2 linked regions of the Homo sapiens genome follow. The protein of the gene in region 1 interacts with the protein of each later gene in a pairwise test. Each region holds a gene or a part of one and is shown on either strand. Other genes may lie near its edges.

Region 1 (7,717 bases):
ATGCCGCTCAGGTCGGCCGTGCTCTCCTGCGACGGGTTGAAGATGCGGACGAACTTCTCCCGGCAGCTCACAGCCACGATCTTCAGGCCTGTCGGGCTGGGAAGAGAGGAGACGCTGTGAGGAGATGCGGCCGGTCCACCCGCACAGCTGCGCGCCCCGCCCGGAAACCAGCTCCAGTCCGGCGCCGGAGGCTTGGGTCACTCGCCCCTTACCTCTGCAGGAGTTCCGGGCTCCAGTGGTCCGGGTCTGTGCAGGGCTGGGGCGACAGGACCGGCTCGCCGTGCCTGGGTGAGTGGGTTTTCTGGAGATCTAGAGAGAGCAGCGCTTTTGGGGAGGGGACCCTCGAATGGAGTCCCCACCGGATGTTCCCCGTGAGGTCAGAACAGGCCTGCAACGCCTGGCGGGGCAGGGAGCAGGGCCAGGGTCAGATGGGGCAGGAAAGGTGGCTGGACCTTGGGGGCTGGAGGGCCACCTCCAGGGCTCTGAGTGAGATCACAGCTCTGAGGGGGTGGAGGGTGGGTGAAGGGTAACCAGGGGAGACCCGCCCCACTGCACCTTCTGAGTCCCTGCTGTAGCTGCCGGCCTGCACCAGCGCTTGCTCGGAGGAAGCGCGGTGGTCCCGGGGCGGGTGCCCTATCACCTGCACGAAGGAAGGCAGGCCCGGCCGGCAGCTGCTGGAGTCGGAGTCAGCGCCCCCTGAGCTGCTGGTGTTCAGACAGGGCAGGGAGCCCCACTCCACGGTCTTGTGATGCCGCTCGGAATGCTTTCCAGAGGACTCTGGGCTCCCTGTGTCCAGCTGTGGCCAGGGCCGGGGCTGCCTGTGGACCACGCTCTGCTTGATGGCCACTCCAGCTCCAGACCCCAGCCCTGCCCCCGTCCAGCCTCACAAGGCAGTGCAGCAGGGAGCCCCTCTTGCCTCCCAGTACCCAGGCTCAGTTCATGGCAGGACAGTGATGGCTGCCTCAACCCCAACGCATTCTACAGATCAGAGAACGCGCATTGGAAGGTTTAAGAGACTTATCCAGGGACACTAAATGGTCCTTTAGTGTCCTGCGTCTTCACTTGCCAAGGTGAGCCCTCCCTTCTGGCCCCTGGGGAGTCCCTGCTCTGTGCAGTTACTTTTGCTTTGAGCTGGGCTCCATGTTGGTGAAGAGGTTGGGATACCGGCGGGCAACGCTGTTCCAATCCACGTCCTCCAGCCGAAAGCCCTGGCCAGGAAGCAAGAGGCACATGGTCCTCCCCTCCCGCAGGGCTCCAGATACCAGACCACACACGTGGGAGGCCTAGCTCACCTCCCCGGTGGGGGCCTGAATGTTTTCAGAGAGGTCGCTTGGGTCCATCAGAGTCTCTGCCGTCACTACCTGCAAGAGGGGACCGGAAGCCAGTGGGCAGGGGCTGGGTGCTCCCCTACAGCACCTCTCCTCTTTGACCTCACCTGTGCTTTGAGGCCTCCTGATTCCTCCCTGCTGGAGCCCAGAGTTCCAGAGGCACCTGAGCAGGGCAGGCTTCCAGGCAGGCCAGGGCGCCCCAGCAGAGGCACCCGACGAGATGGGGAGGGCTGGGGAGGGCAGCCTGGGGCAGGAGGGCTTGGGGGACAGGCTCACCTCCACACTGCCAGTCTGGGATCGTAGCATGCGGCCCACCCACGAGGAGCGGGCCAGCTGCAGGAGGCAGGACTTCTGCAAGTTCTGCAGCTCGGCCTCCATCTCCTGGAGCGTGCGGGTGGTCTGCAGCAGCCGCTCCTCCAGGTGCTCCTTCTCCTGCTCCGAGAGGGCCTGTGGTTGGTGGTGGGGGGGTGTCTTCTGCAGAAGGCCCCCAGGCCAGCCCCAGCCTGGCTCCCCAACACCAGGACCCTGCCCACTCCCTGTGCCCCTGCCTCACCCACTGGGCTCGCTCCTTCTGTTCCTTCAACTCCTGGATCAGCTTCTGGACCTGGTTCTGCAGGAGTTTCTCCTGACTGTGGGAGCTCCTGGAGGAGGGGTGACCTCAGCAGCCCCCACCCTGCTCAGGCAGGGGTTCCTAATGTCAGGTCAGTGGCGAAGGAGGGGAGAAGGAGGGGCTCCACTGCCACCTTGGCCCCAAGGGCACACAGTACAGCCCCGCTGGGGCTGGCCAGCCTCCGGCTGGTCTGGACAAGGGTCTAGCACCCATCCACATGCGCAGGGTTAGGGTGGAGGCTATAGCGTGTTAACTTAGGATCAGGGTGGAGGGTCAGCGCGGGCAAGGATGAGGGTAAGGATCTGCCTCAGCGGTTGGGGTTGGGGTCAGACAGAAACCAGGAGTCCGGGCGAGGACAGGGCGGGGTTGGGTTGGGCTGGGGACTGTGCTGCAGACCTCTTGGGCGGAAGCCCCGCCACCTCTTCCAGGATGTGGCAGAGCCGGGCGTCCTCGCCATTCTGGATGGCCCACCGCAAGGCCTGGATCTCCAGTTCTCGCTGTCTCCACAGCAGCCGCAGTGTGCGAGGGTCCAGGGACTCAAGAGCCAACCTGCAGCGGCAGCAGACCCTGCTGCTTACTCAGGCCGGCCCCTGGCCACCTGGCCCAGGAGGCTCACCAGTCCTCCCTCTCCTCCTTACTGCGGGTCGGCAGAGCAGACCACCGGTGCGGGGTGGGGCGTGGTGTCTGGCAGGCACGTGGGAGTCTCGGGGGCTGCAGGTGCGCCTGCTGGAGGTCCCAGGTGACCACTGACCGACTCTTGCTCTGTGGGGGACAGGAGAGCCTCTTCCTCGGTTTCTTCAACCTCCTGGCCAGACTTGGGGGCCATTCTCAATGTTCTTCGGGAGCTGGGAGGGGTGGGGGGCCCGTCTGCCGTGTGCGCCTCGTGTGGCCACACAGGTTGGAGCAGCCCAGGCGTCACCACTTACTCACAGAGCGTTGCTCTCTGAAGGGACCCACATGTGGGTGTCCACACCCGTGTGTTTCTGACCAGGCTGGCGCAGCAGGTCACCACCCGACATGTCCCTGGCGTGTACCCCTGCCACCCAGGTGCTGGCCCTTTGCCTGTGATGTGGTGTCCCTCTTTCTCTCTCTTGTCCCCCCAGCTCAGGGCCCTACCCCCAGCACTCACCTGAGGCCCGACCTCCAAGCAGGCCTGGGAGGGAAGGGCTGTATACCGTTGCCATGGATACCAGCACCCAGAAGGGGTGGGGCTGTTTGTTACCAGGAGCCTCCAGGGAGACCCCAGACCAGGCCCCTAGGTGAGTTCTGGGCCAGCCCAGCCTGGAGGAGGTGTGAGAGGCTGAGCCACTGCTCAGCTTAGCGGGGGGACCACTTAGTGACCAACACCCTGAGGGAGGCCCCAGCATCCCCTACCTAGCCTGGCAGCAGCAGCGGGATAAATAGGGGGGCACTGCTGCCTGTGAGCCAGCCCAGCATAGCCATGGGTGTGTGGGGGAAGCAGACAGGTAACAGTGACAAGCTGGGGACTGTGCTGAACGCTAACTGGCAATAGTACACTCCTGCCCACAGCCTGTTTTTAAATTAATAATTAATTCTTTAGAGACAGGGTCTTGCTCCGCTGTCCAGGCTGGAATGCTTCGGTGTGATGACAGCGCACGTTAACCTCGAATTCCTGGGCTCAGGTGATCCTCCCACTTCCGCCTCCTGACTTGCTGAAACTACAGGCACCCGCCTCCACCGCCAGGCCCAGCCCACAGCTCCTTTGACCTCAGTGACAGGCACTCACCTACCTGACCCCCAAACTGAAGCCTCACTTTTCCCAGCCGTGTCCACACCCTCTGGGCTACCCCATTACCATGACAAGTATTCCCTCTGCTCCAGGAGAAAAGCCAGGTCCCAGACCTGACCCATTAAAACCCAATCATTCCAGCTTTCACCCTTCATCTCTGCAACTTTCGGCTATGTAAGGGCTCCCTGGGGGAGCACAGGAGACAGGCGGGCAGGAGGCCCACGCCCACAACTCTTTCTGAGCTGGGCAGAACAATCAATGGCCCACACAGCTGACCGCGAGGCTGCGGGGCCCTGGGCGGGACAGTAGGGTAGGGGGTGAAGGAGCGGCTTCCAGCCAGCTTCACTGTGTGCATGGCCTGGCACTGGGTCCAAAAGGGGCAGGAAGGTGTCGGAGAAGAGCCTCAGCTAGAGTCCGGGCCTTCTGAGCGGGCACCTCCCGCACCAGGACTCTGCGCCCGCCAGCTCCGCAGGGCTCCACCTCCCTCGCCGGGACTGGTGACCCTGCGACCCCGCGACCCCTGCGCGTCCAGACTACTGCAGCTGCGGTAGGCCCCAAAGGCTGGCCCGGGAAGCGAGGGGAGGGGCTGGCCCCGCTGCCCCTGGACGCAGGCGGGGGTTGCGGGATCTCAAGCCAGAGACCCTTCCTGGGCGGGAACCCGCCACACTAGAAGGCTGCTGAGGAAGTCGGCCCAGGAGCGGGGCCAGACACCTACCCCGACGCCTGCCCGCGGGCCGCAGCCACCGCATTTCCGCGTTTTTCGCGGTAGGCGGGAGGTGGGGGCGGGGACTGCGGCTCGGCGCCCCCCTCCGACCCGCCCACACCTGTAGTCTCGGGGGGGGCGGGGCGCGGCGACGAGCCAATGGGTCGGGGAGGGGCGTGACAGAGGCAGCCAATGGGCGCGGGGAGGGGGCGGAACGCCCGCGCTGAGCAGCCAATAGGGGTGCTAGGGGCGGGGCGTGCGGACCGCGGGCCAATGGGGGCGCGGGGCCCGGGTGCGCCGCGGCGCTGGGGGCGGCAGGTTGCGGCGGCGCCGGAGCGGGTCTCCAGGCTGGCGAGCGCCCAGGTGAGCCGCGCCGGGTCCCCGGTACTTGGGAGCGCGGGGCGCGCCTCGAGCCGGCCGGACGCCGACTCCAACTGGGGAGAGTTTTCCGCGATGCCCGGACGGAGAGCGGGGGCGGCGCCGCACCTGCGCCCGCCCTGCGGAACGGGGACGCCCTGGCTCCCGCCAGGCTGGGGTCGCGGCGCGGGCTTCGGTGCCCGCGGCGGGGACCGGGACTTTCGGGGCGAGCGCAGCGATTAGGCGGCAGCGGCGGGGCTCCCCGGGCTGGCGGGGGCTGCTCAGACCCGGAGTCTGCTCCATCTGCAGGGTCGAGGTCTGGGTTGCGACCCCGAGCGCCTCTGCGGCCTGAGCAGGTCGGGGTGGGGCGTTCCCATGCCGGCGGCCGCGGGGCCTGGCGTGCGGGCGCCTCCGCGCCGCCCGGGGAGGGGGCAGTGTCCTCCGAGCCAGGTGAGGCGAGTAGGAAATGCTGGATCTGGTTAATGATTCGCCTTGTTCCGGGAGTGCGAGCGTGGCAAGAGGAAGCTGGTGAAGTGGGGGAGGATGCGTGCTCCGGAGGGCCGCCACCCCAGGAATGTGTGGCTGGCGGGTGGGGCTGGCACAGGAGGGTGGGGCCCGTGCGGAGGGGCGGCAGCCCAGCCGTTTCTAGGGCAGGCCAAGAGGATGAGGAGAGGAGGACCAGCCTGCGATAGGAGTAGGCAGGTCCTGACCCGGTGCCTGCGCCCTCCCCACAGGACAGGCATGTTGTTGGGACTGGCGGCCATGGAGCTGAAGGTGTGGGTGGATGGCATCCAGCGTGTGGTCTGTGGGGTCTCAGAGCAGACCACCTGCCAGGAAGTGGTCATCGCACTAGCCCAAGCAATAGGTGAGTCCTCTCGGGGTCAGGCAGGCCGGGCAGGTAGAGCTGAAGTGGGACCTGGTGGTCCAGCTCCATGGTCTCCCCCAAGGAGAGTGGGGCTGGTTGCTGATCCTTTTTGTTCTTCCCAACTCTTCAAGCCAGGTGGACAGAGAGTCGGGGGGACATAGGCTGACCTTCTCCTCTTCTTCCCAGGCCAGACTGGCCGCTTTGTGCTTGTGCAGCGGCTTCGGGAGAAGGAGCGGCAGTTGCTGCCACAAGAGTGTCCAGTGGGCGCCCAGGCCACCTGCGGACAGTTTGCCAGCGATGTCCAGTTTGTCCTGAGGCGCACAGGGCCCAGCCTAGCTGGGAGGCCCTCCTCAGACAGCTGTCCACCCCCGGAACGCTGCCTAATTCGTGCCAGCCTCCCTGTAAAGCCACGGGCTGCGCTGGGCTGTGAGCCCCGCAAAACACTGACCCCCGAGCCAGCCCCCAGCCTCTCACGCCCTGGGCCTGCGGCCCCTGTGACACCCACACCAGGCTGCTGCACAGACCTGCGGGGCCTGGAGCTCAGGGTGCAGAGGAATGCTGAGGAGCTGGGCCATGAGGCCTTCTGGGAGCAAGAGCTGCGCCGGGAGCAGGCCCGGGAGCGAGAGGGACAGGCACGCCTGCAGGCACTAAGTGCGGCCACTGCTGAGCATGCCGCCCGGCTGCAGGCCCTGGACGCTCAGGCCCGTGCCCTGGAGGCTGAGCTGCAGCTGGCAGCGGAGGCCCCTGGGCCCCCCTCACCTATGGCATCTGCCACTGAGCGCCTGCACCAGGACCTGGCTGTTCAGGAGCGGCAGAGTGCGGAGGTGCAGGGCAGCCTGGCTCTGGTGAGCCGGGCCCTGGAGGCAGCAGAGCGAGCCTTGCAGGTGAGCCCGGGGACCTGATCCCCTGTCACTCCCCCACCCCTGATATGGGCAGATACGGGGATCACAGGGTCCCACTCGGGAGGCAGGTGAGCCCGGGGACCTGATCCCCTGTCACTCCCCCACCCCTGACGTGGGCAGATATGGGGGTCACAGGGTCTGACTCGGGAGGCAGGTGAGCCCGCGGACCTGATCCCCTGTCACTCCCCCACCCCTGACGTGGGCAGATACGGGGGTCACAGGGTCCCACTCGGGAGGCAGGTGAGCCCGGGGACCTGATCCCCTGTCACTCCCCAACCCCTGACGTGGGCAGATATGGGGGTCACAGGGCCCGACCAGGGAAAGTGCTCCCTCCGGAGCACAAGGGCTGTGGAGCCCAGTGGCTGTGCCTCCTAAGGATCTCATGTGTCCCCAGGCTCAGGCTCAGGAGCTGGAGGAGCTGAACCGAGAGCTCCGTCAGTGCAACCTGCAGCAGTTCATCCAGCAGACCGGGGCTGCGCTGCCACCGCCCCCACGGCCTGACAGGGGCCCTCCTGGCACTCAGGTCGGAGTGGTTCTGGGGGGAGGCTGGGAGGTGAGGACCTGGCCCAGCCCCACTCCAAGCTGACTTCCCAACCCACAGGGCCCTCTGCCTCCAGCCAGAGAGGAGTCCCTCCTGGGCGCTCCCTCTGAGTCCCATGCTGGTGCCCAGCCTAGGCCCCGAGGGTATGTCTGTGCCCCACCTCCCCCTGGGGCACCGGGCCCTCCTGTGGCTGCAGCCACCTCAGCCTGTGTCCTCCCGCAGTGGCCCCCATGACGCAGAACTCCTGGAGGTAGCAGCAGCTCCTGCCCCAGAGTGGTGTCCTCTGGCAGCCCAGCCCCAGGCTCTGTGACAGCCTAGTGAGGGCTGCAAGACCATCCTGCCCGGACCACAGAAGGAGAGTTGGCGGTCACAGAGGGCTCCTCTGCCAGGCAGTGGGAAGCCCTGGGTTTGGCCTCAGGAGCTGGGGGTGCAGTGGGGGACTGCCCTAGTCCTTGCCAGGTCGCCAGCACCCTGGAGAAGCATGGGGCGTAGCCAGCTCGGAACTTGCCAGGCCCCAAAGGCCACGACTGCCTGTTGGGGACAGGAGATGCATGGACAGTGTGCTCAAGCTGTGGGCATGTGCTTGCCTGCGGGAGAGGTCCTTCACTGTGTGTACACAGCAAGAGCATGTGTGTGCCACTTCCCCTACCCCAACGTGAAA
Region 2 (7,027 bases), on another chromosome or scaffold:
CCGTCTCTACTAAAAATACAAAAAATTAGCCAGGGGTGATGGTGGGCACCTGTAGTCCCAGCTGCTTGGGAGGCTGAGGCAGGAGAATGGCATGAACCCGGGAGGTGGAGGTTGCAGTGAGCCAAGATCAAGCCACTGCAGTCCAGCCTGGGCGACAGAGACTCCATCTCAAAAAAAAAAAATGCAATAAATTGTGAGTAAAATTTTTGTGATCCTGTCAAAACCTTTAATCCATAAATGCAGGAATACTGTCACTTAAAAACTTTGCCTTTTTTTTTTTTTTTTTTTTAAGACAATGTCTCGCTCTGTCGCCCAGGCTGGAGTGCAGTGGTGCAGTCTCTGCTCACTGTATCCTCCACCTCCCAGGATCCAGCAACCCTCCCACCTCTGCCTCCCAAGTAGCTGGGACTACATGCATGGGCCACCATGCACTGCTAATTTTCGTATTTTTTGTAGAAACAAGGTCTCACTTTGTCTCCCAGGCTGATCTCAACCACCTGGGCTCAACTGATCTTCCCGCCTCAGCCTCCCAAAGTGCTAGGATTGCAGGCATGAGCCACTGTGCCTGGCCCACTTAAAAGCTTTTTTTTTTTTTTTTTGAGATGGAATCTCGCTCTGTCACCCAGGCTGGAGTGCAGTGGCGTGATCTCGGCTCACTGCAAGCTCCGTCTCCCACGTTCACGCCATTCTCCTGCCTCAGCTTCCCAAGCAGCTGGGACTACAGGCACCCGCCACCACGCCCGGCTAAATTTTTTTTGTATTTTTAGTAGAGATGGGGTTTCACCATGTTAGCCAGGATGGTCTCGATCTCCTGACCTAGTGATCTGCCCGCCTCGGCCTCAAAAGCTTTTAAAATAAGTTTCTCCTATCAAACTTCTGTTCAGTCATGCATTTCCTGTGTACATCATTATCACACAAACCCTTCGGCCTTCTCTGAAGTTTTGTCTCTTGGGAAGCCCTGTTTGTCCTTGCTGACAGCTTTCCAAGCTGCTTGTTCTCATTTCCACTTACAGCTCATGCGTTCCTGTCACATATGCACCCTTAATTTGAAATTCTCTAACTTATTTAAGACTTGGTTTCTGACCAGGAACCACCCTCTCTTAAACCTCTACTGTCTTATCACTTTTCTCAGTCTCCCTAGAAATTGGCTTTCTTGGCTGAGCGTGGTGGCTCACGCCTATAATCCCAGCACTTTGGAGGTTGAGGTGGGCGGATCACAAAGTCAGGTGTTCAAGACCAGCCTAGCCAACATGATGAAACCCTGTCTCTACTAAAAATACAAAAATCAGGCCTGGCACGGTGGCTCACGCCTGTAATCCCAGCACTTTGGGAGGCCAAGGAGGGTGGATCACCTGAGGTCAGGAGTTCGAGACCAGCCTCACCAACATGGAGAAACCCTGTCTCTACTAAAAATACAAAATGAGCCAAGCAAGGTGGCACACACCTGTAATCTCAGCTACTTGGGAGGCTGAGGCAGGAGAATCGCTTGAACCAGGGAGGCAGAGGTTGCAGTAAGCCAAGATCGCACCATTGTACCCCAGCCTGGGCAACAAGAGCAGAACTCCCTCTAAAAAAAAAAATTAGCCGGGCGTAGTGGCGCTCACCTATAATCCCAGCTACTCAGGAGGCTGAAGCAGGAGAATCTCTTGAACCAGGGAGGTGGAGGTTGCAGTGAGCCGAGGTCATGCCCCTGCACTCCAGCCTGGGAGACAGAGCTAGACTCCGTCTCAAAAAAAGAAAAAGAAAAAAATTGGCTTTCTTTGTGGGGGAGCCATTTTTCACAAAGAAACCATTGTTTTCCTCATTTATGTATTACCAGTATATATGTGATGGCACATAGAAAGAATAAAGCCAGCGTTGAGATGTGCAGGCTGAAAGGTGGCCAGGCAGACTCAGAAGCCAAGTGTCTCTTCCTACTCCCAGCATGGCAATGCACTGCCCACAGTGGTGCTTAGAGGAGCCAGTTCTGTGTTCTAGACTTTCAGTCACAGCTTCCGTGGGGTGAAATCCTGGAGTGTTAAATCCTTCCATTCACCAGGCTCTGCTGCATTCTACCCATAGCTGGAGCCCTGGGCCTGCAAAACCCTTAGCTTGCGGGAGTCTGGACTTGCTCTTGCAAGTTGGGAGTCATTAAAGACTTTAACTGAAGAGGTGCTTGCCAGTATTGCTTTAGAAAGATGCGCAGCACCCATGGGGAGTAAGGATTGGAAGGGAGGGAATTGAATTGAGAGGCATTGCCATAATCCTTGTTAAAGGTAAAGAAAAGCAAGGCAGGCCGGGCACGGTGGCTCAAGCCTGTAATCCCAGCACTTTGGGAGGCCGAGGCGGGCAGATCATGAGGTCAGGAGATCGAGACCATCCTGGCTAACACAGTGAAACCCTGTCTCTAAAATACAAAATACAAAATAAAATACAAAAACCCTGTACTAAAAATACAAAAAATTAGCCGGGCGTGGTGGCGGGCGCCTGTAGTCCCAGCTACTTGGGAGGCTGAGGCAGGAGAATGGCGTGAACCCAGGAGGCGGAGCTTGCAGTGCGTGGAGATCACGCCACTGCACTCCAGCCTGGGTGACAGAGCGAGACTATGTCTCAAAAAAAAAAGGCAAGGCAGAAGGAGAGGCTGGGTTTCTGGGCTACTTAGGGGGTGGGAGATCAAGAGGGCGTTTGTTTTGCCTGGATTACTGGGAGTAGCGCTGTGCAGGGGGAGGGCAAAAATTGCGAGTAACCCTGATTCCCAGATTGGCTGGCGAAGTGGTCAGGCTGCTGTTGAGATAGAGGAGAGCAGGCTGTTGGGGAGGCACAGCTCCCAGCTGGAGGCACCTGCCATACCTTAGGGGGCTCAGCAGGATGTCGGGGATCAGCAGGGCATCAGGCATAGTCTAAATGACTTTGAGTTGCAAGAGCTATCCCTGTCTACAGCCAGAGTCAGCAAACTAGGCCACGGAGCAAAATCAAAGATATTTTATAGGGACTTACGTGATGAGAAAAAAACATACTTTCACAACTTTTTAGTGACAAAATTTAAAATATAAAAACAGTGGCCGGGTGCAGTGGCTCACGCCTGTAATCCCAGCACTTTGGGAGGCCAAGGTGGGCGGATCACGAGGTCAGGAGATCGAGACCATTCCGGCTAACACGGTGAAACCCCGTCTCCACTAAAAATACAAAAAATTAGCCGGGCGTGGTAGTGGGCGCCTGTAGTCCCAGCTACTCAGGAGGCTGAGACAGGAGAATGGTGTAAACCTGGTCAGCAGAGGTTGCAGTGAGCCGAGATCGTGCCACTGCACTCCAGCCTGGGCAACAGAGTGAGACTCCATCTCAAAAAAAAAAAAAAAAAGTAATAGGCTGGACACAGTGGCTCATGCCTGCATGGCTGTAATCCTGGCACTTTTGGAGGCTGAGGCAGGGGGATCACTTGAGTAGGCACCTGTAATCCCAGCTACTCAGGAGGCTGAGGCAGAAGAATAGCTTGAACCCGGGAGATGGAGGTTGCAGTAAATCGAGATCACGCCACTGCACTCCAGCCTGGGCAACAGAGCAAGACTCTGTCTCAAAAAGAAAAAACAATTTAAGAATTGGCCAAGCATGGTGGCTTATGCCTGTAATCCCAGAACTTTGGGAGGCTAAGGCGGGCGGATCACCTGAGGTCAGGAGTTCGTGACCAGCCTGCCCAACATGGTGAAACTCTGTCTCTACTAAAAATACAAAAAATAGCCAGGTGTGGTGGGGGCCTGTAATCCCAGCTACTCAGGAGCCTGAGGCAGGAGAATCACTTGAACCCGGGAGGCAGAGGCTGCAGTGAGCCAAGATTGCGCCACTGCACTCCAGCCTAGGTGACAGAGCGAGACTCTGTCTGAAAAAATTTAAAAAAAAAAAAAAAAAAAAAAAAGCCAGGCAGGGTGGTGAGTGCCTGTGGTCTCAGTTACCCAGGAGGCTGAGGTGGGAGGATCACGAGCCTAGGAGTTAGAGACTTCAGTGTTTGCACCACTATACTCCAAACTTGGTGACAGAGAGAGACCCTATCTCAAACAACAACAACAAAAACAGTAATAGTTGAGTACAGTATTCTGGTAATATAAGTGCACTAATGAGAGGAATGAAACTCTTGAGGTTCTAAGTTTGTCATCTGAGGTGCACATGGTCATCTCTAAGGCCATTCTTTGCTCATGGTCATATAAAAACAGGTGAAATTTTGTTTTGTGTATTTTACCATAATAAAAATAACTTGGGGCCAGGCGCAGTGGCTCATGTCTGTAATCCCAACACTTTGGGAGGCCGAGGTGGGTGGATCACTTGAGATCAGGAGTTAGAGACCAGCCTGGCCAACATGGTGAAACCCCATCTCTACTGAAAATACAGAAATTAGCTGGGGATGGTGGCACCTGCCTATAACTGTAATATCCCAGCTACTCGGGAGACTAAGGCGGGAGAATCACTTGAACCCGAGAGGCAGAGGTTGCAGTGAGCCAAGATCACGCCACTGCACTCCAGCCTGGGTGACAAAGCAAGACTCCATCTCAAAAAAAAAAAAAAAGAACGGGGAAACAGTACAAAAACAGGAGGTGAGCCAGATGTGATCAGCAGGTCATTGTTTGCTGACTGTAGTCTAAAGTACCGGTTTGGTTGTTCCATGTGCTTTTCATCTGCCTGGTCCTAGGAATCCAGGTTTCCCTGAGAGAGGGCCACCTAACTCGATGCTACACTGCTTTTTTTTTCTTTTTTTTCAGTAAAGACAAGGTCTCATTATGTTTCCCAGATCTCACACTCGTGGGCTCAGGCAATTCTCCCACCTCAGTTTCCCAAAATGCTGGGATTACAGGCATGAGTCACCACACCTGGCTTAGCTGCCACACTTCTGAGGCAGGGGTCTTCATAAGCTTACTGCTTGGCCCACTGTGCTCCTGGGAGAAGCTGTTGAAATCCCTACTTTGGTCAGAAGGAGTTTGGCACAGAGGAGGCATTTGATTTTTAGCACACAGGCATTATGTGAAAAGACTGATAACATTGTCATAGGGGTTTTTCCTTTTTAAACGTTTTCTTTTTTGTGAACTTTTATCCAAAGATTGAAAGAAGCTATAAGTACAAGTAAAGAACAGGAAGCAAAGTACCAGGCCAGCCACCCAAACCTTAGAAAGCTGGATGATACAGGTAAGTGGATACCTGTGTGCACAGCCACATTTGAATTCTGGGGGGAGACCTCTAGGTTTGGCGTTGGTCCTTGGGGGGCAGTGGCAACCTCTCTGGGGAGGTGGGCAGGGGCCCCAGCTGCTGGCATCACCCATGCTAGCCAAAGGGCCTTAGGGACCCCGCATGCTCTTGCGGAGCTGGGGGTGTGCATTATGGTGGGGCTCCTCCTTCTCTCCCTCCCTCCCTCCATGGAGAGGAGAACAAGGAAGTGAGGGCCTGCATTCCATTGAAAATGAGCCTGCCCGGCCAGCCTGGTGCAGTAACACACGCCTGTAATCCCAGCACTTTGGGAGGCCAAGCTGGGTGAATCACCTGAGGTCAGGAGTTTGTGACCAGCCTTACTAATAACGTGGTGAAACCCTGTCTCTACTAAATACAAAAAAATTAGCCAAATGTGGTGGCACATGCCTCTAATCCAAGCTACTTGGGAGGCTTGGACAGGAGAATCACTTGTATCTGGGAGGCGGAGGTTGCAGTGAGCTGAGATCACGCCACTGCACTATAGCCTGGGCAACAAGAGTGAAACTCTGTCTCAAAAAAGAAAATGAGCGTGCCCATCATTGGTTCCTGCCTGTGTCATTCTCAATTGTTCCAGCAGTAAAAAGCCAACTGCAGAAAAACCCCTTGGTAAATAGAATACTGGCCCCTCAAAGCTGTCCACGTCCTAATCCCCAGACCCCGTGAGTGTGTTAGGTTATATGGCAAAGGTGGAATTACAGTTGCAGATGGAGTTACAATTGCTAATCAGCAAGATGGGGAGATTATCCTGGGTTGTCCAGTTGGGTCCAGTGTCATCACAAAGGTCCCTTTTAAGTGGAAAGAGAAGCAGGAGAGAGAGCAGCAGAGTCAGAGATCTGAAGATGCTGCTGGCCTTGAAGATAGAGAAAGGGGCCCACCTGCCAAGGTACACGGGTGAACTGTAGAAACTGCAAAAGGCGAGGAATTAGATTCTTCCCAAGAGCTCCAGAAGGAGTGCAACCCTGAGGACACCCCGACTCAGCCCAGTGAGACCCATGTTGGACTTCTGACCTCCAGAACCGTAAGACAAGTTTGTGGTCATTTGTCACAGCATCAGTGAGGGACTAATACAGCCTCCAGCCCAAGCAGAAGGAGCAGCAGCCACATGGACAAGGTGTGCAAGACAGTGTTGATCGAATCATTCCACTTCTATCAAGTGATAGGCCCAGAAACATCCCTTATCTGGAAAGGAATTTAGGGCTCCTGGGGCCTCCTCCATAGGCCCCCACAATAGCCAGGTACATTGAAATTGGTGCTAGAAACCAAAGGCTTACTGTGCTGCCTTCAAGAAAACGATACACCATGGAAGCTCTGGAACCCACCATGGTTGTGGTTGATGCAGCTGAGGAGAGCCCAGATGGAGGAAGAGCGGGGAGCAGGAGAGACTAACATCATCAGCACAGTTCATTCTGGAAAGGCAAGTGGAGGAAGTGAGTGTAAATTGAAAGGCAAGGGCTGGGAAAACCGGCCTCATCACACCCTGGAGAAGGGGCACAGGACACTGCACCCAAGACACAATTTTAAGGAATTAAAGAGAGTTTTTATTTGTGCAGTATATATTAACTTAAAAGACTGAAGAAAAAATCGACACAGTTTGCAGAATGGTTTCAGTTGGTTGGTGCTGGAGGAAATGTGCTAAGTCTAGAAAGTGAAGTTTCCCTGAAAGAGATAAACCGGGATGACAGGGCTTTTCCGTGTGCGTTTAGAAACTGAAGTTCATTCAAGCCAAGAAAGATAATTTTAAAAAAGAAGAAACTAAAAGTTCAAGGAAGATTTCTTGTGGCAAATGTGCATTATTTAACATTTCTTTTTTTTTTTTTTG

The links. The genes of interacting proteins can lie anywhere in the genome.
Region 2: the proteins of RASSF7 (region 1) and SNAP29 interact in binary tests that used the Homo sapiens proteins (3 or more experiments, as listed by UniProt).

The regions. Positions count from the first base shown.
Region 1 is NC_000011.10:556,280-563,996, forward strand, and holds the start of RASSF7 (ras association domain-containing protein 7), read left to right. Parts: upstream 1-4,690; 5' UTR 4,691-5,198; intron 5,199-5,482; 5' UTR 5,483-5,489; coding exon 5,490-5,613; intron 5,614-5,799; coding exon 5,800-6,497; intron 6,498-6,909; coding exon 6,910-7,038; coding exon of another isoform or gene 7,039-7,101; exon of another isoform or gene 7,102-7,116; coding exon 7,117-7,199; exon of another isoform or gene 7,200-7,278; coding exon 7,279-7,366; 3' UTR 7,367-7,717. Other genes in the region: LMNTD2 (lamin tail domain-containing protein 2), read right to left, coding at 1-96, 213-309, 556-818, 1,120-1,208, 1,293-1,361, 1,605-1,775, 1,882-1,969, 2,335-2,487 and 2 more. UniProt on the Homo sapiens protein: Negatively regulates stress-induced JNK activation and apoptosis by promoting MAP2K7 phosphorylation and inhibiting its ability to activate JNK.
Region 2 is NC_000022.11:20,875,987-20,883,013, forward strand, and holds part of SNAP29 (synaptosomal-associated protein 29), read left to right. Parts: intron 1-5,062; coding exon 5,063-5,148; intron 5,149-7,027. UniProt on the Homo sapiens protein: SNAREs, soluble N-ethylmaleimide-sensitive factor-attachment protein receptors, are essential proteins for fusion of cellular membranes.